7 linked regions of the Homo sapiens genome follow. The protein of the gene in region 1 purifies or fractionates together with the protein of each later gene. This does not show direct contact. Each region holds a gene or a part of one and is shown in the gene's direction. Other genes may lie near its edges. The genes, in order: STAT5B, TPM1, SNX3, TOM1L1, AARS1, TPM4 and DDR1.

Region 1 (2,357 bases):
GACTTAGATTTGTATTGAAGTACATAGTTTCCATGGTTTGAAGAATTTATTGAAACATCCAAGCCAATTTGGAAGATATCTTGAATTTCAGTTTTAGTGCTGACCTTCTCCTCTACCAGGTCTTCCTAACAGATTGAAATATTAAATGCTTGGCCAAGTGCGGTGGCTTATGCCTGTAATCCCAGCACCTTGGGGGGCCAAGGTGGGCAGATAACTTGAGGTCAGGAGTTAGAAAACAGCCTGGGTGACATGGTGAAACCCCATCTCTACTAAAAATACAAAAATTAGCCAAAGTGTGGTGGTGTACCTGTAATCCAGCTACTCAGGAGGCTGAGGCATCGGAATCATTTGAACCTGGGAGGCGGAGGCTGCAGTGAGCCGAGATTGCACCACCGTACTCCAGCCTGGATGAGAGAGTGAGACTGTTTCAAAAAACAAAACAAAAAAATATTAAGTGCTTGTGTCATATCCTTAGATAAGTTAGGTGGTTGTGTTCTGTCCTAAGAAAAGATGTGATTCATAAGGAAGATCACATTTTTGTTTCACTTGAGAACTTTGATTTACTACATTCTTCCCTTGGCAGCTAAAGCTGTTGATGGATACGTGAAGCCACAGATCAAGCAAGTGGTCCCTGAGTAAGTGTCCAGGTGGCTGTGGCTCTCCTTCTGCCTCTTTCCTCCTCCCCCAGACCCTGCCTCCCATCCTTATCCTGGCCCAGCTTTCCGCTCCCCCGGGGAAACTGTCTCAGCCCTGGGGAAGGACCTGGGCTTGGTGATGCTATGCCAGTACCTGAGGCCCCACTCCTGTAGCTGGAGCCCCAGGGCCGAGTGGGGCACTTTGTCCTTCTACACCCTGAGAAAGACAAAGATACCCCTTGGTCCCCTCCCCAAGTCAGCTGCCCTGGCCTCCCTGGCAGCTGAAGCTCTGTTCTCTTCCTTCTGCAGGTTTGTGAACGCATCTGCAGATGCCGGGGGCGGCAGCGCCACGTACATGGACCAGGCCCCCTCCCCAGCTGTGTGTCCCCAGGCTCACTATAACATGTACCCACAGAAGTAGGTGGCATTCTTGTGGGGGTCCACAGGGGAGGAACTGGGGGCTTGGCCCCAGGCTGGACCCCTGGAGGGCTGGGGTCAAAGGAATCCAGAGCTCCTCTAGGTCTGAGACCACACAGCCCTGGCCCGGGCTCTGGCCTTTGGGAGGGAGAGATTTGACCAGAAGTGATTGGTGGTTTAGAGTCGGGTTGGGCAAATGTCATCTGTTCCCCTCTCTCAATATGGAGATTTTTCTTGCTCTAAGGACTGAGTGGAGTTGTGATGTGTCTGGACAGCCGGTGTGAGAGGTAACAGGGGAGGGTATTTCAGTCTGAGTTGCTGTACAGCCAGCTGTTTGAATGGTTGTTCTTTTCCCATGAAGCCCCAGGCTGAGGGCATAGGCTGGCTCAGACTGCTCCCCTGGTGGCCTGTGGGGCTTGGGGTGGTCTCTGGCAGGCTTTCCCCTTCCCTTCATCCCTCTTCTTTCCCTCCCAAGCCCTGACTCAGTCCTTGACACCGATGGGGACTTCGATCTGGAGGACACAATGGACGTAGCGCGGCGTGTGGAGGAGCTCCTGGGCCGGCCAATGGACAGTCAGTGGATCCCGCACGCACAATCGTGACCCCGCGACCTCTCCATCTTCAGCTTCTTCATCTTCACCAGAGGAATCACTCTTGTGGATGTTTTAATTCCATGAATCGCTTCTCTTTTGAAACAATACTCATAATGTGAAGTGTTAATACTAGTTGTGACCTTAGTGTTTCTGTGCATGGTGGCACCAGCGAAGGGAGTGCGAGTATGTGTTTGTGTGTGTGTGTGTGTGTGTGTGTGTGTGCGTGTTTGCACGTTATGGTGTTTCTCCCTCTCACTGTCTGAGAGTTTAGTTGTAGCAGAGGGGCCACAGACAGAAGCTGTGGTGGTTTTTACTTTGTGCAAAAAGGCAGTGAGTTTCGTGAAGCCTGGAAGTTGGCCATGTGTCTTAAGAGTGGCTGGACTTTGACATGTGGCTGTTTGAATAAGAGAAGGACAAAGGGAGGAGAAAGCACATGTGCTCCAGTGAGTCTTCGTCACTCTGTCTGCCAAGCAATTGATATATAACCGTGATTGTCTCTGCTTTTCTTCTGAAATGTAGATAACTGCTTTTTGACAAAGAGAGCCTTCCCTCTCCCCCACCCCTGTGTTCTTGGGTAGGAATGGGAAAAGGGGCAACCTACAAAGATTGTTGGGGCAAGGGAAGTCACAAGCTTTCGGATGGGCGGTGGCTTTTCACAAAACATTTAGCTCATCTTATTCTCTCTTTGTCCTCTCTCCCCTCCTGCCCGCCC
Region 2 (3,500 bases), on another chromosome or scaffold:
ACAGCTTGACAGCGCCGCGTTCTGCTGGAAGAGCTAAACTATAGTGCAAAACCCTTAACCCGTCCCTTTTTTCAGCAGTCCTCCTCCCCTTTTCTCTCATACAGATAGATAATGCTTTGTTACCAAGTCTTGGAAAAAGTTGGCGAAATGTCAACAGTTATTGGGTGTATTCTCTTGCGGGCTTCCCCTCCCCCTTGTTAAATGTAATACCTGGCTTCCTTCCTTTCTTCTAAGGCAAATGTATCCAGCAAACACGAACAGGATTTCAGAGGTAGTCTAGTATTGGATATTTGTCGATTTTGTGTGTGTGTGTTTTTAATGAAGATACTGAAACAAACACCTTGGGAGTTTTATGACAATTGATAGTATGATGTCCTGCTGTGCTTAATATACGGGGTTGTTCTGAGTTGAGTAAATCGTTCTAGTTAAGTGTTTGTAAATGGCTGTATGGCTGGCCACAGAAACTTCAAGACCTGAAATGGTCCTCTTCAGAGGAAAGCTCAACTAGAGAAAGTTTCAGATAAAATACAAGCAGGAATAAGGAAATTAATAGGCAAAAGATAATTCTCAGTATTTGCTTTATAGGACGAGTCAGCAAAAGTCCTGTGGATATCCCTGAACTTGGCTGGGTGGTAAACTAATTCCGACTCCCTTACTCGCTAGTAGCTGTCCTTGAACCATTAGAACTATATAGAATATGATGGATAAAAACAAGAACTTTGGACCCAGACTGTCAGAACTTGAATCCTGTCTCCACTACTTACTAGCAGTGGGCAAGTTACTTAATCTCTGTGTTTCAGTTCCCTGTGTGTAAAGTGTGGATAGTAACAGCATCTACCTGTCGGTTAAAGGAGTTACTATGTAAAGACAGTACACTGATGCTTGGCGCAAAAGGGTAAGTGCTGTGTGCCCGCTGTCATTAAAACTGCACAGCCCTGGCAGCCCAGTGCTCCTTCACCTTCAGTTCCCCACCCAGCAAGAGGTCTTAAAGATGGCCTGCTCATTTCATGACATCATAAAACACTTCATTTACTGCTTTTAATCAACATTTGTTGGGGCGGGGGGCTTGAATGAAGAGGAAGTGGGCGGGCTGGTAGGCATGTTTGATGGGTTAAAGTGGTATCAGTGGTAGAAGTCTGAGGTCTCCTCACCCTGCTAAGAAAGAGTATGTGTGACCCTATGCAGGAGAGCCTTGTATTGGCTCCTGGCCTAGTGATTGATGTTAGACACAAAAGATAAATTTTATGAAGGGCACATTATTACTTTTATTCTTACCTTCTCTTTTGCACGTCGTTTTTATAACAGAACTCTTCCTGTGCCAGTTGGCTAAAGATAGTACTTTCGTTCTTTTCACGGCTTTATATCAAAAGTAGTTTAAGTAGTTTCAATTTTTTTAAGTAATCTTTGCAAACAATCTACCTGGGTGATTGATTGAACACAGAACCTTTTAAGACAGCAACTTGAAGACTGGATCAGACCATTGAAGAGAGACTTTCAGGCTGCAAGTTGTTCCTAACTTCTGAAATTGGAACTTAAATGTAGCTGACTTAGGTATTTAGATGTAGCTTGGGCTGTGAGTTAAGCTAGCAGTAACAGTTTCTTTTGGCAGCAAAGATAAAGGTTTAGTGACAAAACCATGAGCCACTGCAAAAAATATTTGACCAGAGAGTTGGCCTAAATTCAAATACTCAGACTGTAATTAATAGGCCCTATTAAACCAGCCCTTACCTTGGAAAAAGCAGCCATCCCTTACTTCCTCCTAGTCTGTGTTTCCAAGGTGTGTGGATCCTTCAAAATGTTGGAATGAGGCTACTTTGCTTGACATGATTGATTCCAGATCTTGTGACCCACTAGGGTTATGTTTGCTTTTTTTCATTATTTAAAGAAAAAGGCAGGATGAATCTTCCTTTCTGAGTAGTATCCAGCAAACAAGGAGACAGGGAGTTGTGGCCAGAAGGTTCTTAATTAGTAACATGATTAAATCATGGGAAATAACCAATTTACAAAAATTCCCAGCACTTTCCCTCTTTACACTTGGTAAGTATTTCCGGGATAGGAAAACCGAGGGTGCATTTTGTGCTTGCATTGGCACTCCCAGAGTGGCTGTTAACTGGAATGTATACTCTCGATTTCCGCTTTCATATGTAGGCAAGGCAGAGGCACTACAATGCCTTGTTCATGTCTGTTCTCCCTCATTATACAAATATGCTTCATAAATTATGGGCTTTGGCACACACAGGAGGTTGTGTTTATCTGTTATCCATGGGAGTGCCCCTTAATGTCATCAGTGTTTTTTTTTTTCCCCCCTTTCCTTACCATATAAGGGCAGAAGTTTAGCTTGGCTGTGGTCACTTGGCCTTACACAGCAAGTTGGGTGAAACCTTCTTCGTATAACTACAGTTTGCATGAAATAAAAAGACCTGACCTTTGATCATCCCAAGTTCCACTCCAGTTCAGTCAGGACTTTGGAAACATATTCCAGAGGATTGATTTCTAGATTATAATATTCTCCCACCAGTATTTTTTCTTAATAACCTTAACTGGAATACTTTTTTAAAAAGTAAAAGTCACTGCCATTTTTAATTTTCTGTTGTTGTATTGGCTAAAACATCTGGATTTCATGAAAATCTAGGCCTCATAAAAGTTGTTTTTTTTTTTTTTTTTCAAATCTGATTTGGGATAATATTATACTATGGTGGGGTGGGCATGCCCTTGATTTCTATATAGTACCATGTTGGGGTGGGGGAATGGGGTGCATGCCCTTAGAGGAGGGTCATATGCATTGTAAGGCACCTCAAGTACAGAGCACCAGGAAGTTACTTAAAAACATCTGCAGGAGGACATTGGTAGCCTTTACTAATACAGCAGTCTCTTTTTTGAGTAGTTCATTGTTAGAACACAATAGCACTTTTGAAATAAAAGAAACTAGCATCCCAGATTGAAAGACTTCACTGGCAGTCAGCACATGGGCTGCTGTTAGAAGAAAGCTAACTTGGCTGGGTGCAGTGGCTCATGCCTGTAATCCCAACACTTTGGGCGGCCGAGACGGGTGGATCACCTGAGGTCAGCAGTTCGAGACTAGCCTAGCCAACATGGCAAAATCCCATCTCTACTAAAAATACAGCAATTAGCCGAGCATGGTGTCACGTGCCTGTAATCCTAGCTACTGGGGAGGCTGAGGCAGGAGAATCGCTTGAACCCGGGAGGTGGAGGTTGCAGTGAGCCGAGGTCATGCCACTGCACTCCAGCCTGGGAGACAGAGCTAGACTCCATCTCAAAGAAAAAAGAAGAAGAAGAAGAAAGCTAACTCAGTACACTAAGAGTGATTTACATGCCTGCAAATAATTTGTGTCTGGGGTCTTGACCCTCCCCAAATGCCTTGTTATTTATATCTCTGCTTTTAGATAACAGATGGTCATGTGTCTATGGGCTTGTACCGGCAGAGGCAACAGCAGGTCCTTAAGACTCCCCAGGTGCCATGATGAAAAGAACCTTAGAAA
Region 3 (3,500 bases), on another chromosome or scaffold:
CAACTCCTGGTCTCAAGTGATTTTCCTGCCTCAGCCTCCCAAGTAGCTGGGACTACAGGCATGAGCCACCATGTCCAGCTAATTTTAAAAAATTTTTTGTAAGGATGAGGCTTCACTATGTTGCCCAGGCTGGTCTTGAATTCCTGGCCTCAAGTAATCCTCCTGCCTTGGCCTCCCAAAGTGCTGGGATTACAGGCATGAGCCACCACACCTAGCTGAGAAGTGTCTTGATACATAGGCTTTGGGCTTTGCTTGACATACCATGTGGCACACTGGAAATGTTTAATAAACGTTTGCTGAGTGTATATTTTGCTTTTTTTTGTAAATTTATTTATTCATTTTTTAAAAATTTTTAGTAGAGACGGGGTTTCACCGTGTTAGCAAGACGGTCTCGATCTCCTGGCCTTGTGATCCGCCCGCCTTGGCCTCCCGAAGTGCTGGGATTACAGGCGTGAGCCACCCCGCCCGACCGCTTTTGTTTTTAGTAACAGCTTTATTGAGATATAATTCACATACCATGCAATTCACCCATTTAAAGTGTATAATTCACTGGTTTTTAATATGTTCACAGAGTTGTGCAACCATCACTATTTTAGAGCACTAGTCAATTTTAGAGCATTTTTATCACCCAATAAAAGAAACCCTGTCCCCATTAGTAGACACCACTGATTTCTCCCCAACCCTTCCTCACTCAGCCTATGGCAACCACCTGCTAGTCTCCTTTCTCTGTGGATTTGCCCATTCTGGGCATATGTAAATGGAAGCCCACAATATGTGATCTTTTGTGTCTGGCTTCTTTCACTTAACATGTTTTCACAGTTCATGCTTTTCTAACATGCATCAATTACTTCATTTCTTTTTATTCCTAAATAATATCCTATTGTATGCTTATACCACATCTTATTTATACACTTATTTGGTGGACATTTTGTTCTACTTTTTGGCTGTTATTGGTAGTGCTGCTGTGAACATTTGTGCATAGGTTTCTGTCTGCATGTGTTTTCATTTCTTTTCAGTATATACCTACCAGTACATTGCTGGGTCATAACTCTTTTTAACCTTTTGAGGAATTGGCAGACCGTTTTTCCAAAGCAGCTGTGTAATTTTACATTCTTACCAGCAATGTGAGGTTCTACTTTTCTCCACATCCTTACCAATTGCCTGTCTTCTTTATTATAGCTATCCTACTGTTTGTGAAGGGGTATTGCATTGTGGTTTTGATTTTTATTTCTCTAATGGCCACTAATGTTGATTTTCTTTTCATATACTTACTGGTCATTTATGTATCTTCTTTGGAGACATCTTTATTGAGAGCTTTTGCCTTTTTCAATGGGTTCATCTTTTTATTATAGAGTTATGTCGAGAATATATAAGACTCTTAGAGTTCCCTATCAGATACATAATTTGCACATATCTCCCAGTCTCTGGGTTGTTTTTCACTTTCTTGATGTTGTCCTTTGAAGCACAATACTTCACATTTAACATTAGACCAGTTAAATATATTGAGAGTTAAATCCATGTGAAAGTTTTACTCGTATTACAGTATTGCAAAGAACAATGTAATCAAGTTATTTTGTGGTATATTAGTACTTTTAACTAAGATCTGTTAAACTAAGCTAGAAATTAGCTGACATGTATTATGGTCAGATCTTTTAGCTTTTATTCTAGTTTGCTTTAGCTTTCAATATATTGTGCTCACCAGATATTCTCCTATTTCTCACCCCACATGCACGCACATATCTTTGCATTCATGACTTTTTAATTAGTATTAGAATTTTTTTTTTTTTTTTTTGAGACGGTGTCTAGCTCTCGCCCAGGCTGGAGTACCGTGGTGCAGTCCCGGCTTACTGCAATCTCTGCCTCCCAGGCTCAAGCAATTCTCCTCAGCCTCCTGAGTAAAGGGGTTACAAGCATGCACCACCATGCCCGGCTAATTTTTTGTATTTTTAGTAGACACAGGGTTTCACCATGTTGGCCAGGCTGGTCTTGAACTTCTGACCTCAGGTGATCCACCCACCTTGGCCTCCTGAAGTGCTGGGATTACATATGTGAGCTACCGCACCCAACCTGGTGTTAGAATTCCAGTTAGGTGTTTTCAGACTGCTTCAGCAAAAATAATTTGATGTAGAAGAGAATCTTAGCTGGATGAGCCATTTATGATTTTTATAGATCATTAATCCTGTTGCCTACCACCTCCCCATCCATTTGAATGACTAGTTTGAATATGTTAGGAAGAGTGTATCTCTACAGAGGATAATGCATAGCTATCCTTTTCTTAAATTCCCATTATATATGAAATTTATATATATTTAATTATATATATATTGTTACATTTTTTATCATTTTCCTTCTTTCTTTAACTGACATCCTTGAGCTATCCTTTTCTTAAGTTTCATGCTAAATTCTACCCTGAATTAATGGTGGTCATTTATTTAACACAGTGGTTCCAGAATTCTTTTTTTAAATAATAATTGTGTAGATACAGATATTTTTCCCTGCCCACCAGATAGCCATTCTACTGGAACGTAATGGTTAGCATTCCTTTGTTTCTCAGTTATAGAAGGTCCCTGCAGATTTTAACTCTCAACTAAACAGATGTTAACATGGGGGTGAGATCTGAGAATGCTAGCATAAATTTACGGAGACAAATCCATAGATATCTTCATCATTGGTCATCTGAGGAGAGTAAATCTAGGAAGGGATTATAAAGTTTATTTGGACATTTGGTTTTTTTGTTTTTATTTTGTTTTTTGTTAATCTATATGAAGTCGAGTTGCTCTTTCCCTTTTTTACCCTATTGAATTTTGTTTGAGGATAAACAACTCGTTGTAGAAACTATATCAAGGGTTTAAAGTTTTAATTTTTTTGAATATGTGTAATTTGTATTATTGGTGAAAAGAAAAATATGTATCAGTTTACTATATATATTTCTCCTTGTTCTGATTGTTTGCTTACACATTTCTCTGTTTGCGTTTAAAGTAAGGATCCAGCTAAGTGGTTGGTCATTTAACAGATATTTGAGCTTCTGTTGTATGCCCAGTTTTTCTTAAAATAACCACAAGAAGCCTAAGACAGGGGTCTTGATTTGAAGACATTAGTATGATAGATTGATGGTTTTCCACCAAAGGCAGTTTTATCCCCCAGGAGACGTTTGACACTGTCTAGAGACATTTTTTATTGTCTCAGCTGGGGGTGCTATGTTGTCTAGTGGGCAGAGGCTAGGGATGCTGCTAAAGAAAAGAATGCCAGCCTGGCCAACACAGTGAAACACCATCTCCACAAAAAATAGAAAAATTAGCCAGGCGTGGTAGCACGCTATGTACCTGTAGTGTCCCGGCTATTTGGGAGGCTGATGCAGGAGGATCATCTGAGTCTGGGGGAGGCTGCAGCGAGCCATGATCGCACCACGGAACTCCAGCCTGGGTGACAGAGCAAGACCCCATCTCAAGAAAGAAAAGAATGCACAAGAAAGCCCCCCAGTACAAAACTTATCTGATTCT
Region 4 (3,500 bases), about 13 Mb from region 1:
AATTGAGACTAACAGAAACAGATTTATTTCCGAGATGAAAATGGCTATTACATAGCATAGGCAAGATTTGATCCCAGTCCTCAGATTCTAAATTCCATGCCCTTGCCTCATGCCACTTTGTTTCTAAGAACGAATCAAGCCTCTTAAAAGAGTAGGCTACTGTGTTTCCTTTATGTCTTTAGTTTCTTCCTGTGTAGTACAGGGCCAGGTATATCAGATGTTGACTGGATTAATGATTAAGCACCCCACCCTCATACACACACCTAATCCCGTCTCTCCTAGTATCCGGGAAGACTCAAGGGCTAATGGAAGGTACTGTAGAACCGGAGTAGAAAGATGTGTAGATGTACCCTCAAATATAGTATATCTGGGATATCTCAAGGGTGCCAAAGGTTAGGAGAATTGAGTAAGGAAGAGAAGGGCAGAAGATGAATTTATGCCCCCTTCTCTATTTCAGCATGGGGTATTATTATTTTGCTTTTTACAGGTGTTCACCATTCATAACAATTTGCCGCTTTCTCCATTGTGCCCAGCCTACTTGATGTTTCAGTGGTTGCTTCTTAATCCCACCTCCATATCTTCTTCCATCATGGTTCCCTCCCTGTGACGACGGACCAGGGACCCTCCTTGAGGAAGTTGGGCTATTCCAGAGTGTTGTGCCTCTGGCCCTCTGTTTCTCTTTGGGCTTCCACTCTTCCTTCTCATCAGGTAGTCTAATCTGCTCGCTGCCTTTCCCATTATCTGTTCCACCTCAGATCTGTAGCTCCCTTACCTCGTGGTTTCTGTCCAATCTAAAGCCTGTGCCTAAAAACAGGCAAGAGTCACAAGTCATAGGTCAGAATACACCTTCATCCTTGGGGTCACAGTACATTAAAGTCAGGAAAAACATCTGGCTTTTCCTTGGATTTTCTTTAAATAGGCCTTTGACTCTTCATATCTTCATGCTGATTTCCCTGAGTTGTGTATTTAATGGTCTAGTCACCTCGTCTCAGACTACTCACTGCCTTGCAGAGGTATGCTTAAGGCCTCAGAACTGACTTTAATATTCACGTAAGCCAAATTTAATTATGAGGGAAATTAGTCACAGGAGTCACCTATGTCTGTCAAAAGCAATTATAAGTTTACCAGTAAACTCTTTAAAATGTAATCCCTATATATGACATTTCCATTTTATTAATGTAAAGTGATGAGAGCCTGTCAAATTCGATTATAAATATTCTTTATGTTATCTGTCATGTTGAGTTCTCCGTGGACGTGTTAGCCTTGATTGGGCTTTGACGGAACCTGACTGTACTATGATTTCCTACCATCAGTCGGTGGAGCAGTTTTGTTTTGTGTTTCAGCAGAATTTTGTTACCAGGCTTTATTACTCTGAGCCAGAGAGTATTCTGTTCTTGAATGAGTCAATTGTGATAAATCTCAGCAAGAGGCTACTATTATTGTCAAATGGAAAGTGGTCGAACAGGTTCCTGAGAATCAATTAGTTAATAGGCCTTTGTGGAGCACCCCCTAAGCAGTGAGCTTCAGGGGTTTCATAAAATGTGTAAAATGTGGTTGAAAATAATAATGAAGAAAAAGCTTGGTTTATTCTCCTTTGGCAAATTTACCAGTGAAACAAAATATCAGGCTGGGTGCAGTGGCTCATGCCTGTAATCCCAGCACTTTGGGAGGCCGAGGAGGGTAGATCACTTCAGGTCAGGAGTTAGAGACCAGCCTGGGCAACATGGTAATACCCTGTCTCTACTGAAAATACAAAAACTAGCCAGTCATGGTGGCATGTGACTGTAATCCCAGCTACTCGGGAGGCTGAGGCAGGAAAATTGCTTGAACCCAGGAGGCGGAGGTTGCAGTGAGCCTAGATTGTGCCAGTGCACTCCAGCCTGGGTGACAAAGCGAGACTCTGTATCCAAGCAAAACAAAGCAAAACAAAACCATGTGGTTGTCCCCCCAGGAGCTTGTTGCAGTTGGAGGGAGTGAGAAGACTGAGGCCTGTCCTAGGGGTGTCATCATAGAGTGGGGTAGTCACCTTGGTGTAGGCACTATTCACGGCCCAGGTGTAGCTCTGATGGCCCTGAAACCTGGTTGTTGTCACTCTGCCTGGTTTGGAAATTTACAGTGAGAAAACTGTCAACTACCTCTTTTTCTTCCAGCCCTCTCTTAAAATACTTAGATCAGCTAATCATCACATTCACTCCTGCTAGGAAGTTCTCCATGGAAGATGATCTAAATAGTTGCCATGTATTGAGGTCCTGCTTTGTGGCAGGCTCTTTGTTATGTTTCATTTGGGCCTTACAACAAGTCTCTAGAGGGAGATATTATGTCCATTTTGCAGATAAGGACACTGAAGCTTAGGATAAGTGATTTGCCCAGCCAAGCCCAAAAGATCAGTGAAGCCTGGAGTCACCCACTTCAGTCTTTGTTCCTTGGCTCCTGAGTTTTCAATCCCACCTCAGATTATGGATTCTTATTTGTCTTATTTCGAAAGATGGGTTATCTGAACACATTTGCATCAAAGTTCAATTTCAGAATATGTGAAAACATATTTAATTTTTCCAATTTGCCACGTAGGTTTTATTACTTATCTGAGTGAGTTGGAGGGTGAAAGAGGTTCTGGTGACATAATAGAGGAGGTGATGTAGAATTAATTAGTCCTGACATTCTTGATTCTAATGGGAAAACACAAAAGGCATGACTGCTAATCTCCAGATGTTCACATTTTTAGCATTTCATGTTGACTCTTTGATTTTGTGCATGTACCTCCTGGGAGTCTTACCCATTATCATAAAATCTTGTGGCACCAAAGATAAAAATTAGTTTGTGAGGGCCAGGTGCAGTGGTTCATGCCTGTAATCCCAGCACTTTGGGAGGCCGGGGTGGATGGATCACTTGAGGCTAGGAGTTTGAGACCAGCCTGGCCAGTATGGCGAAAACCCATGTCTACTAAAAATACAAAAATTAGCTGGGCATGGTGGTGCACGCCTGTAATCTCAGCTACTTGGGAAGCCGAGGCATGAGAATCACCTGAACCGGAGAGGCAGAGGTTGCAGTGAGTCGAGATTGCGCCACTGCACTCCAGCCTAGGTGACAGAGTGAGACCCTGTCTCAAACAAACAAACAAACAAAAATTGGTTTGCGAATTATTTAGCAAGAAATACACCTAGGGAGAGTGAGACTTGGAGGCTAGGTATTTGCGTAAGACGGTACAACTAGTTAGGTGAAATATTTCTGTAAACTCACATTGAGCTAGAAGCACTTTTCCTTTTAGGATTTCGCCCGTTAAAAATTCATTATAATAATCCATCAAGCTAAATGGCATGTTATTCAACTTTCCAACTTTGTCTCACCAAACTGTACAGATTCATCTTAATATGTTTTGGATTTTGTTTTTATTTTTCTTTGCCTTAAAGGTTTTCCCTGTGTTTCACACAGCTGCATGTTTCTATATTTTCTGATTATTTCTTGGTCACAGTGCCTTAAAACTATAGCGTTTTAAGTATAAC
Region 5 (3,500 bases), on another chromosome or scaffold:
AACACCTTCCAACCCAGCACCACTTGGCTGCAGACTGAGCATGAGTTTCCTTCCATTAAAGTCTTTGAAGTGCTTTTTCCCCTAGATCAGTGGTTCTCAAGTGGGGGCGAGTCTGCCTTCCAGGGAGTAATTGGCGATAATGTCTGAAGACATTTTTGATTTTCACAACTAGGGGCAGATCCTGCTGTCACGTACTTGGTAGAGGCCAGGGTGCCCCTCAGCATCCCACACTGCAAGAGAAGTTTCCACAACAGAGAATGATCTGGCCCCAAATGTCAGTAGTGCCAGGATTGAAAAACCCTGTTCTGGCAGTTTATGCTGGGCATAGTTTAGCAAGTTCCAGTCCTTTGGAGTCCCTTTTCTCCTACTTTACGGTAACTTATGCTTGTTTCTCTTGCTGACAGCTGAAATCACAGGGCAAGGGAGCTGGTGGGGAAGACCTCATTATGCTGGACATTTACGCTATCGAAGAGCTCCGGGCACGGGGTCTGGAGGTCACAGATGATTCCCCAAAGTACAATTACCATTTGGACTCCAGTGGTAGCTATGGTATGTTGCTGTGCTCCTTCCACATCTGAGCATTCTGCCCCGTATCTGGGGGGTATTTGAAAGATTGTTTCTCAAGATTAGCTCTCCAGCAGACTGCTGACAGCCTCTCCTGGAGTGCCGTACAGTCACGCTATGCACTTTTATACACATAGGCACCCTTGGCTGGAGGTTTTCTTAACTCTATTTTGAAATAATTATTGTCACAGGAAGTTGTAAAAAAAAAAAATTTGTAGGAAGGGTCTCACACCCTTTTATCCAGTTTCCCCTAATTGTAACATCATGCAGGAAACTGGGCAATTGACATTGATACAATCCACAGTGACTATCAGAATGCTATTAGGGGCCTGGCGCTGTGCCTCACACCTGTAATCCCAACACTTTGGGAGGCCGGGGCAGGTGGATCACCTAAGGTCAGGAGTTTGAGACCAGCCTGACCAACATGATGAAACCCCATCTCTACTAAAAATACGGAAATTAGCCGGGCGTGGTGGCGTGCCCCTGTAATCCCAGCTACTCGGGAGGCTGAGGCAGGAGAATCGCCTGAACCTGGGAGGCAGAGGTTGCAGTGAGCCAAGATCATGCCATTGCACTCCAGCCTGGACAACAAGAGTGAAATTCCGTCTCGGGGAAAAAGAAAAAGAATGCTATTAGGATTCTATTATCCTAATGCTGTTAGAATGCTATTATCCTAATAGCATTCTTTTTTTTTTCTGAGATGGAATCTCCCTCTGTTGCCCAGGCTGGAGTGCAATAGTGTGATCTCGGCTCACTGCAACCTCCACCTCCTGGGTTCAAGCGATTCTCCGGCCTCAGCCTCCCAAGTAGCTGGGATTACAGCCACGCACCACCACACCCGGCTGATTTTTGTGTTTTTAGTAGAGACAGGGTTTCACCATGTTTGCCAGGCAGGTCTCAAACTCCTGACCTCATGATCTGCCTGCCTTGGCCTCCCAAAGTGCTGGGATTACAGGCGTAAGCCATCTCGCCCGACCGGATAATAGTATTCTAAAGTTAAGAAACAAAGCCAGTGCAATGACTCATGCCTGTAATCCCAGCACTTCGGGATGCCAGGGTGGGCTGATCAGTTGAGCTCTGGTGTTTGAGACCAGTCTGGGCAACATGGCGAAACCCTGTCTCTACCAGAAATACAAAAATTAGCTAGGTGTGGTGGCGCATGCCTGTAGTCCCAGCTATTTGTGGGGCTGAGGCAGGAGGATCACTTGAGCCTGGGAGATTGAGAGGCTGCAGTCAGCCATATTTGTGCCACTGCACTCCAGCCTGGGCTACAGAGTGAGACCCTGTCTCAAAAAAAACATAAAAATAAATTGGCAATACATGTTTTTGCAGCTTTTTTGCCCTGGTAGAGAACAATCTTTTTTTTTTTTTTGAGATGGAGTTTCGCTCTGTCACCCAGGCTGGAGTGCAGTGGCGCATTCTCGGCTCACTGCAACTTCTGCCTCCCAGCTTGAAGTGATTCTCCTGCCTCAGCCTCCCAATTAACTGGGATTACAGGCATGTGCCACCACACCTGGCTAATTTTTGTATTGTAGTGGACACGGGGTTTCACCGTGTTGGCCAGGCTGGTCTCAAACTGCTGAGCTCAGGTTATCCACCCGTCTCAGCCTCACAAAGTGCCAGGATGACAGGTGTGAGCCACCGTGCCCGGCTGAGAACAATCTTACACCTAAATCTATTCAAGCAAGCCTACAAAATGAGTACATTCTTTGTGAGTTGACCTTGGACTAGGGAATTTATTACTACTCTTAAAGATCTACTAATCTGATGCACCAAGTTTCTGTTCAGTAGCTCAGAGTTAGGGTAACCCATTGTCCCAGTTTTAACACTGAAGCCTGCATCCCAGGAAACCCCTCAGTCCTAAAAATTGGGACAGTTGGTCACCCGACAGAGTGTTGCATTCTTTGATGGAAAGCCAGCATGCGAAGCCCTTTGTTGTTGTTGTTTTTTTTTTTTTTTTTTTTTTTTTTTTTTTGAGACCGAGTCTTGCTTTGTCACCCAGGCTGGAGTGGAGTGGCACAATCTCGGCTCACTGCAAGCTCCGCCTCCTGGGTTCACGCCATTCTTCTGCCTCAGCCTCCTGAGTAGCTGGGACTACAGGTGCCCGCCACCACACCCGGCTAATGTTTTGTATTTTTGGTAGAGACAGGGTTTCAGCGTGTTAGCCAGGATGGTCTCGATCTCTTGACCCCGTGATCCGCCTGCCTCGACCTCCCAAAGTGCTGGGATTATAGGGGGAGCCACCGCGCCCGGCCGCGAAGCCCTTTCATATTGTCTAATGAGTTTGCTTCCAAAATACAATTGGACAATTAGGAGCTAAGAAGAGTTTGCGAAAGAGAATCCAGCAAAAGTCAGCCAAGAAGGAGTGAAAAGGTCATTGACCCCACTGTCCCCTTTCTATGCATTTCCCTTGAGCAGTATTTGAGAACACAGTGGCTACGGTGATGGCTCTGCGCAGGGAGAAGATGTTCGTGGAAGAGGTGTCCACAGGCCAGGAGTGTGGAGTGGTGCTGGACAAGACCTGTTTCTATGCTGAGCAAGGAGGCCAGATCTATGACGAAGGCTACCTGGTGAAGGTGGATGACAGCAGTGAAGATGTGAGCCAACAGTTCTTCCTTGTTAGCCGAGGAGGGCCAGGCGTGGAGCCGGGGAGCTGCTTTTGCCCCACAGTGCTCCAGGCCTTGGGAGCAGACCTGACACACCTTTGGGTTGGGTTCCATGGTATTTCTGAAGCCGAGGGAGCTGTTGCTTGTACCTGTTGCTTTCCTGGCCATCGGGTACCCTCGTAGGAGTATTTTTGCAGCCAGGGTACAAGTTTCCTACAAGCTTTGCACATTAAAAAGGAGAGGCAGCTCTCTGAAGGGGAGATGTCCTTGTAGAAAACTCAGCCTCGAGCTCTGCCGCTGCTGAATGAGTTACTTTGTCTCCCTAGGCTT
Region 6 (3,500 bases), on another chromosome or scaffold:
CCGGGCTGGAGTGCAGTGGCGCCATCTTGGCTCACTGCAACCTCCGCCTCCTGGGTTCAAGTGATTCTCATGCCTCAGCCTCCCGAGTAGCTGGGATTACAGTCGCGGACCACCACACTCAGCTAATTTTTGTACTTTCAGTAGAGATGGGGTTTCACCATGTTAGCTAGGCTGGTCTGAAACTCCTGGCCTCAACTGATCCGCCCACCTCAGCTTCCAAAAATGCTGGGATTACAGGCGTGAGCCACTTTGCCCGGCCCAGGCTATGCTTTGCTTTTTTTTTTCTTCTTTCTTTTTGAGACGGAGTTTCGCTCTTGTTGCCCACGCTGGAGTGCAGTGGCGCCATCTCTGCTCACTGCAACCTCTGCCTCACGGGTTCAAGCAATTCTCCTGCCTCAGCCTCCCAAGTAGCTGGGACTACAGGCATGCGCCACCATGCCTGGCTAATTTTGTATTTTTAGTAGAGACAGGGTTTCACCATGTTGGCCAGGCTGGTTTTGAACCCCTGACCTCAGGTGATCCACCCGCCTCGGCCTCCCAAAGTGCTGGGATTACAGGTGTGAGCCACTGCACCTGGCCCAAGCTATGCTTTTCTAATGATCAAAAACATACCAATTTGTCCCAAAATTTCAAATAGTGCATCTGGTTCTCCCCTGCATCCTACCACCACTACCACCTCAAATTATCACAGATAATTGACATTTAGATGTTCAAGCCACATCTTCCAGACTACCCCTTGAACCTGGAAATGGCATGAAAATCTCCAACTAGATCCTGAATTTTCGGTATCCATTGTTATTCCTCATCCTATTTTTTTGTCCAGGTGGGAAGCTCTGTCCCCATTACTCTCTCTATTCATCCATTCCTCCAAAATGCACCTCCCCTAAACCACCTCCACCTTTCCACCCTCAGCCTCTCCCTGCTCCTAACTGCCGTCCATCCTGAACTTCTGCAAAAACCATTCCCCTCACACATTGCCATATATATGCCCTTGGAAAGATTACAGACTGTGTAGGGGGCTGGTTTTTGTTTGGAGTCTGTGTGTTTGTCCCTGGAATTTCTCCAGGCATTTCTGGACTCCACCCTTTGAAGTAACTATGCAGCCTGTCTATCCAGTTATTCTACCTAACTAAGCACATAAGTGGAATTTCAGAGATTAGTGCTATGGCCGGGCACGGTGGCTCACGCCTGTAATCCCAACACTTTGGGAGGCCAAGGCAGGCAGGTCACTTGAGGTCAGAAGTTCAGGACCAACCTGGTCAACATGGTGAAACTCTGTCTCTACTAAAAATGCAAAAATTAGCCGGGCATGGTCATGGGGGCCTGTAATCCCAGCTACTGGGGAGGCTGAGGTGGGAAAATCAATCACTTGAACCTGGGAGGCGGAGCTTGCTGTGAGCCAAGGTCGAACCTTTGTACTCCAGCCTGGGCGACAGAGTGAGACTCCGCCTCAAAAAAAAAGAAAAGAAAAGAAAAGAGATTAGCACTATGGAGGTCTACACTATCTGTTGATAGTCTGTGAGCCTTGTCGTGATTCTCAAGGGCAGTTAACACTTTCAGGGAAAGTCATTTTATCTCAGACCTAATAACAAAATAGATGCTAAAGCATCTGAGTGACAAGATGAAGCGAAGTCAGGATTTGTAGTCAAGAGACCAGGGTTTAAGGCCTGGCGCAGTGGCTCACACTTGTAATCCCAGCACTTTGGGAGGCCAAGGCAGGCGGATCACTTGAGCTCAGGAGTTTGAGACCAATCTGGGCAATATGGCAAGACCCCATCTCTAAAATTATTCATAATAATATTTTATTTTTAAAAAATTTTTTAATAAAATAATAAATAAAGAGACCAGGATTTAAAATCCTAGCTCTACTACTTTAACCATGCCAACGTGAACAAGCTGCTTAGGTTTTCTGCAAAATAAAGGTGATATCTCTGTTATGAGGATTAAATGAGATAATGGAGAAACTGGCTCGTCCAACATAGTCAGCATTCAGTTAACATCTATTCACCCAGACTGGATAGGCCCAGGTCACTGATCTGTCTGATAGAATCCTCCCAGGTCATAGTCACTTGACTCTGTGTGTGTGTGTGTGTGTGTGTGTGTGTGATGGAGTCCCACTCTGTCACCCAGGCTGGAGGGCAGTGACGCAATCTCGGCTCACTGCAGTGTCCGCCTCCCGGGTTCAAGTGATTCTCCTGCCTCAGCCTCCTGTGTAGCTGGGATTACAGGTGTGCGCCACCACACCCGGCTAATTTTTTGTATTTTTAAGTAGAGATGGGGTTTCGCCATGTTGGCCAGGCTGGTCTCGAACTCCTTACATCAAGGATCCATGGTGTCTCATGCCAGTAATCCCAGCACTTTGGGAGGCCGAGGTGGGTGGATTGCATGAGACCAGCTTGGGCAACATGGCGAAACCCCATCTCTACTAAAAATACAAGAATTGGCTGGGTGTAGTGGCACGCACTTGTAGTCCCAGCTACTTGGGAGGCTGAGGTAGAAGGATCACTTGAGCCCAGGAGGTCAAGGCTGCAGTGAGCTATGATCATGCCACTGCACTCCAGCCTGGGCAACAGAGCAAGACCCTGTTTAAAAATAAATAAATAAGAAAGGCTGCCATCTTCTGCAGTCATTTTTTTCTTTCTGTAAATTTCCAGGCTGATGATATCACATTTTATGAGGCATTTTGCTTTCCCCCAGCATTTTAATGAGTCTTGGCCTTGTCCCTTATCAGCCATCACTTACTGCAAACTAAGTTCTCTCTCGTGCTCTGTCACGCATAGCTCTAAATGGCGTCTTTTTTCTCTCTCTCTTTCTTTTTTAATTTAAATTGTTTCATCAGCTCAGTTACTTAATAACATGCCTGTAGAATGGCTTAAATTTCGCATTTACCTGGGGTTTGTCTCCGTTCTCCTGGATTCATAGACAGTTACACAATTATGTGTATAATTTAAACAGCCATTCCCAGAAGCTCCGAAGGAAAGATGGGTTACAGGATTTTAGATTTAACTATCAAAGGCTCAGGGGCTAATTAACTAGCACTTGGGTGGAAATTTATATTAAGTCACACATATCTAGGACTGAAATCTTCATGTAGCAGCACGTCATAGGTTCTGAAGTATTTCTCCTTTATTCCTCATCATAACCCCCACACCACGCATTGATATCGTTACCCCCATTTGACAGACGGGGAAAACAGACCTAGGAAGGTTAGATGCTTACTTAAGTGATACAACTGGAGCTTAAGTTCAGGTATTCTGACTCAAGGGTTACCAGAGTTCACAAGGAAAAATACAGGACACCAACTTAAATCTGAGTTTCAGATAAGCAATGAATAATTTTTTAATCATAAGTATATCTCTTGCATAAGTACATCTCATGCAACATTTGGGATATACTTACACTAAAATATTATTTGTGGTTTATCTGAAATTCAATTTAACTGGGCGCCCTGCATTTTATCTTACAACTGTGACTCCCAAATTTGGTGCTTGTTCCTTAGT
Region 7 (3,500 bases), on another chromosome or scaffold:
TTGGGCCCCCCATGGTTGCCCGACTGGTTCGCTTCTACCCCCGGGCTGACCGGGTCATGAGCGTCTGTCTGCGGGTAGAGCTCTATGGCTGCCTCTGGAGGGGTGAGTGGCTCAGCTTCCTGGGAATCTGTTTCCTGAGCAGGGGACTGGAGGGTGGGGAGTGTGGAGAATGGGCATCCAGGATCCCTTCTCCTGCTGGGAAGCTGTCACTCTGAGGAGGGGGCTAGCCAGCATTGTCTCCTCCATGCCAATGAGCCAGTGGAGAGATACAAGAAGGGACCTGAAACCTGCCCAGGCCTGATGCAGGGATGGGGGATGGAGCCTTAGTGCCTCTGACCCCCATCCTCTCACCCTGCCCCAGATGGACTCCTGTCTTACACCGCCCCTGTGGGGCAGACAATGTATTTATCTGAGGCCGTGTACCTCAACGACTCCACCTATGACGGACATACCGTGGGCGGGTAAGAAAGGCCCCTGCAGGATATGGAGTTTGGGGTGGGAGGGAGGACTGTGTGTGTGTGTGTGTGTGTGTGTGTGTGAGAGTGTGTGTGTGTAGGGGGGCTGGTAAGTAGGGTGGGGAGTGAGATGGAAGAGCTGAGAAGAGGGATGGGTTAGGTGGGGCCTCAAAGGGTAGCACTAGGGTGACCACTAGCCCGTATGACACTGTATGAAAAAGGCACCCCTTTGCTAACACACATTGTTGGAAATTGCTGCAATAAATATACACATCATAGATTGAAATGGTGCCCCTTAGAGGTGGTGCCTTTGTGCTGGATGTGACCTGCAAGGTACCTGTAGTGCTGGGGTGGGGTGGAGAGAGGAGAAGGGCCAGCTGCATGAGTGTGAGGTGGGATGGGAATGGGACTAGTGGATGGGAGCCAGGCTGGCCATGCCACTGTGCCGGAGGGTGGCGGAGCAGAATGCCTGGATGTCAAGACCCTCTTCCCTTCCAACCTCCTCTTCCTTGGTCCCCTCTTCTCCAGACTGCAGTATGGGGGTCTGGGCCAGCTGGCAGATGGTGTGGTGGGGCTGGATGACTTTAGGAAGAGTCAGGAGCTGCGGGTCTGGCCAGGCTATGACTATGTGGGATGGAGCAACCACAGCTTCTCCAGTGGCTATGTGGAGATGGAGTTTGAGTTTGACCGGCTGAGGGCCTTCCAGGCTATGCAGGTGAGTGAGTCCGGCTCTCGAGGAGGGCTCTGAAGCCATGCAGGGTGCCGTTGGGGTGCCCCCACCACTCCTAGCCTTGACCCTGTGCCCTCTTCCCTTCCCCCCAGGTCCACTGTAACAACATGCACACGCTGGGAGCCCGTCTGCCTGGCGGGGTGGAATGTCGCTTCCGGCGTGGCCCTGCCATGGCCTGGGAGGGGGAGCCCATGCGCCACAACCTAGGGGGCAACCTGGGGGACCCCAGAGCCCGGGCTGTCTCAGTGCCCCTTGGCGGCCGTGTGGCTCGCTTTCTGCAGTGCCGCTTCCTCTTTGCGGGGCCCTGGTTACTCTTCAGCGAAATCTCCTTCATCTCTGGTAAGCCCTGGAGTAGCCCAGTCTCCAGTCCCTGAAATTGACAACTGATTTCATTCCTAACCCTGCAGTGTCCCTAAAATACTCATTCCTTGCATTATATCTACCCATCACCCACCGAAACTTCTCAATTAGGGGTGCCCCAAATAACTTGAGCCCCTTTCTGCCTCTTGTTCTCTGCGTATCCATCTTTCCTTTGTAAGCCCCTTGCCCGTGACTATTATTGAGCCAGTATGACAGTACTGGTTGTTAAAATATTGAAATACTTCTGTATTAGTTGAGAAATAGCCTCTTCTCTAAGCCTCCAGATACCTGTCCTCCACCTCCCCACAATCCAGCAACTATAGGGTTAACACCCACCACAGCTGGGTGTTCCAGGACCCTGCTCCCCCAGCCCCCACTGGTCAGTGGTTGCCTATTGAGAATCACCCATGCTTCTGCTCCTTTGCACAACAGTCCACTGCCTCTGCCTCCCTTGGGTCTCCTCCTCATTTACCTCCCTCCTTTCTTTTTGTTCCTTCTCCCCAGATGTGGTGAACAATTCCTCTCCGGCACTGGGAGGCACCTTCCCGCCAGCCCCCTGGTGGCCGCCTGGCCCACCTCCCACCAACTTCAGCAGCTTGGGTGAGCAATCTTGGGTGGGCGTGTGGACCCTCTGCACCCTTCTCCCTGGGCCTCCCCCTCGGCTAGGGTGGGACCCTCCTGTGGTGCTGACCCTGCTGCCTCCACCAGAGCTGGAGCCCAGAGGCCAGCAGCCCGTGGCCAAGGCCGAGGGGAGCCCGACCGCCATCCTCATCGGCTGCCTGGTGGCCATCATCCTGCTCCTGCTGCTCATCATTGCCCTCATGCTCTGGCGGCTGCACTGGCGCAGGCTCCTCAGCAAGGTGGGCACAGCCGTGGCATGTGGAGTGGCGGGGGGAGGCCAGGCCCCAGCACGAGCCAGCGTCCAGTGGGACCTGCAGGGCACAGCCCACTAGCATCCCAAGAGGAGGGCTTAGTAAAGAGACCACTTACACCATGTCAAAGAGGGTATGGGGCTCACAGGGAGGGCTGCTCCCCAGCTCTGGGTCTGCTCAGCGGAGAGGAGCAAATACCACGACCCAGAGGAGAGAGCCTGTGGAGAGGGCACCTTGACAGGGGCAGTAGACTTTGGTCCTGGGATGCAGCTGGCCCGTATCTACCCCTCAGGGAGGGCCTGGGAGAATAGATGCCCTGACCTCACTTTCTGCCCCAAACTCCTGCTGGGCTCCTCTCTGGCTAACCCAAACCAGGCCTGTTGGTGCAGTGTACACTGGTCAGCCTTGGGGCAGAAGCAGGGTAGAGACAGGCAGAGAGTGGGGTTGGAGGGGCAAAGGGAAGACGTCTGGCACACCCCAAGCCACGTCTTCCGGCTGGAGTCCAGTGGCAGTAATGTACATTAAGGTTGATGACTGGACACGGTGGCTCATGCCTGTAATCCTAGCACTTTGGGAGGCCGAGGCGGGAGGATCACCTGAGGTCAAGAGTTCGAGACCAGCCTGACCAACATGGTGAAATCCCATCTCTACTAAGAATACAAAATTAGCCAGGCATGGTGGCTGATGCCTGTAATCCCAGCTACTCAGGAGGCTGAGGCATGAATCTCTTGAACCTGGGAGGCGAAGGTTGCAGTGAGCTGAGATCATGCCATTTCACTTCAGCCTGGGCGACAAGAGCAAAATTCCATCTCAAAAAAACAAACAAACAAAAAAAAAACGGTTGATAGTTATGGACTGGGCAGATGAGGGTTAGAATCTCATTGTGGGACAGGGAAGTTACCTCCATGCTCTTGAGCTTCACTTTCTCTGCCTGTAAGATGGTGCTGATAGTATCCACAGCTGTAGGGCTCTTGTGAGGGCTGAGGGAGGGAACGCAGGGATGGACACAGCAGAGGGCCAGGCCGTGTGTGCTGAGCAACACGGGTGATGCCTCCCATCCCTATGACAAGGCTGAACGGAGGG

What was found.
Region 2: the proteins of STAT5B (region 1) and TPM1 purify together in Homo sapiens (affinity purification with mass spectrometry; one large-scale study listed by BioGRID and IntAct). This does not show direct contact.
Region 3: the proteins of STAT5B (region 1) and SNX3 purify together in Homo sapiens (affinity purification with mass spectrometry; one large-scale study listed by BioGRID and IntAct). This does not show direct contact.
Region 4: the proteins of STAT5B (region 1) and TOM1L1 fractionate together in Homo sapiens (co-fractionation; one large-scale study listed by BioGRID). This does not show direct contact.
Region 5: the proteins of STAT5B (region 1) and AARS1 fractionate together in Homo sapiens (co-fractionation; one large-scale study listed by BioGRID). This does not show direct contact.
Region 6: the proteins of STAT5B (region 1) and TPM4 purify together in Homo sapiens (affinity purification with mass spectrometry; one large-scale study listed by BioGRID and IntAct). This does not show direct contact.
Region 7: the proteins of STAT5B (region 1) and DDR1 purify together in Homo sapiens (pull-down; one large-scale study listed by IntAct). This does not show direct contact.

The regions. Positions count from the first base shown.
Region 1 is NC_000017.11:42,201,035-42,203,391, reverse strand, and holds part of STAT5B (signal transducer and activator of transcription 5B), read left to right. Parts: intron 1-583; coding exon 584-635; intron 636-944; coding exon 945-1,052; intron 1,053-1,527; coding exon 1,528-1,654; 3' UTR 1,655-2,357. UniProt on the Homo sapiens protein: Carries out a dual function: signal transduction and activation of transcription. Mediates cellular responses to the cytokine KITLG/SCF and other growth factors. Binds to the GAS element and activates PRL-induced transcription.
Region 2 is NC_000015.10:63,049,247-63,052,746, forward strand, and holds part of TPM1 (tropomyosin alpha-1 chain), read left to right. Parts: exon of another isoform or gene 1-141; intron 142-800; exon of another isoform or gene 801-895; intron 896-3,500. UniProt on the Homo sapiens protein: Binds to actin filaments in muscle and non-muscle cells. Plays a central role, in association with the troponin complex, in the calcium dependent regulation of vertebrate striated muscle contraction.
Region 3 is NC_000006.12:108,216,041-108,219,540, reverse strand, and holds part of SNX3 (sorting nexin-3), read left to right. Parts: intron 1-3,500. UniProt on the Homo sapiens protein: Phosphoinositide-binding protein required for multivesicular body formation. Specifically binds phosphatidylinositol 3-phosphate (PtdIns(P3)).
Region 4 is NC_000017.11:54,907,352-54,910,851, forward strand, and holds part of TOM1L1 (TOM1-like protein 1), read left to right. Parts: intron 1-3,500. UniProt on the Homo sapiens protein: Probable adapter protein involved in signaling pathways. Interacts with the SH2 and SH3 domains of various signaling proteins when it is phosphorylated. May promote FYN activation, possibly by disrupting intramolecular SH3-dependent interactions.
Region 5 is NC_000016.10:70,262,007-70,265,506, reverse strand, and holds part of AARS1 (alanine--tRNA ligase, cytoplasmic), read left to right. Parts: intron 1-404; coding exon 405-549; intron 550-2,982; coding exon 2,983-3,161; intron 3,162-3,500. UniProt on the Homo sapiens protein: Catalyzes the attachment of alanine to tRNA(Ala) in a two-step reaction: alanine is first activated by ATP to form Ala-AMP and then transferred to the acceptor end of tRNA(Ala). Also edits incorrectly charged tRNA(Ala) via its editing domain.
Region 6 is NC_000019.10:16,096,995-16,100,494, forward strand, and holds part of TPM4 (tropomyosin alpha-4 chain), read left to right. Parts: intron 1-3,500. UniProt on the Homo sapiens protein: Binds to actin filaments in muscle and non-muscle cells. Plays a central role, in association with the troponin complex, in the calcium dependent regulation of vertebrate striated muscle contraction.
Region 7 is NC_000006.12:30,891,019-30,894,518, forward strand, and holds part of DDR1 (epithelial discoidin domain-containing receptor 1 isoform 2 precursor), read left to right. Parts: coding exon 1-102; intron 103-361; coding exon 362-461; intron 462-983; coding exon 984-1,170; intron 1,171-1,277; coding exon 1,278-1,524; intron 1,525-2,049; coding exon 2,050-2,145; intron 2,146-2,253; coding exon 2,254-2,405; intron 2,406-3,487; coding exon 3,488-3,500. UniProt on the Homo sapiens protein: Tyrosine kinase that functions as a cell surface receptor for fibrillar collagen and regulates cell attachment to the extracellular matrix, remodeling of the extracellular matrix, cell migration, differentiation, survival and cell proliferation.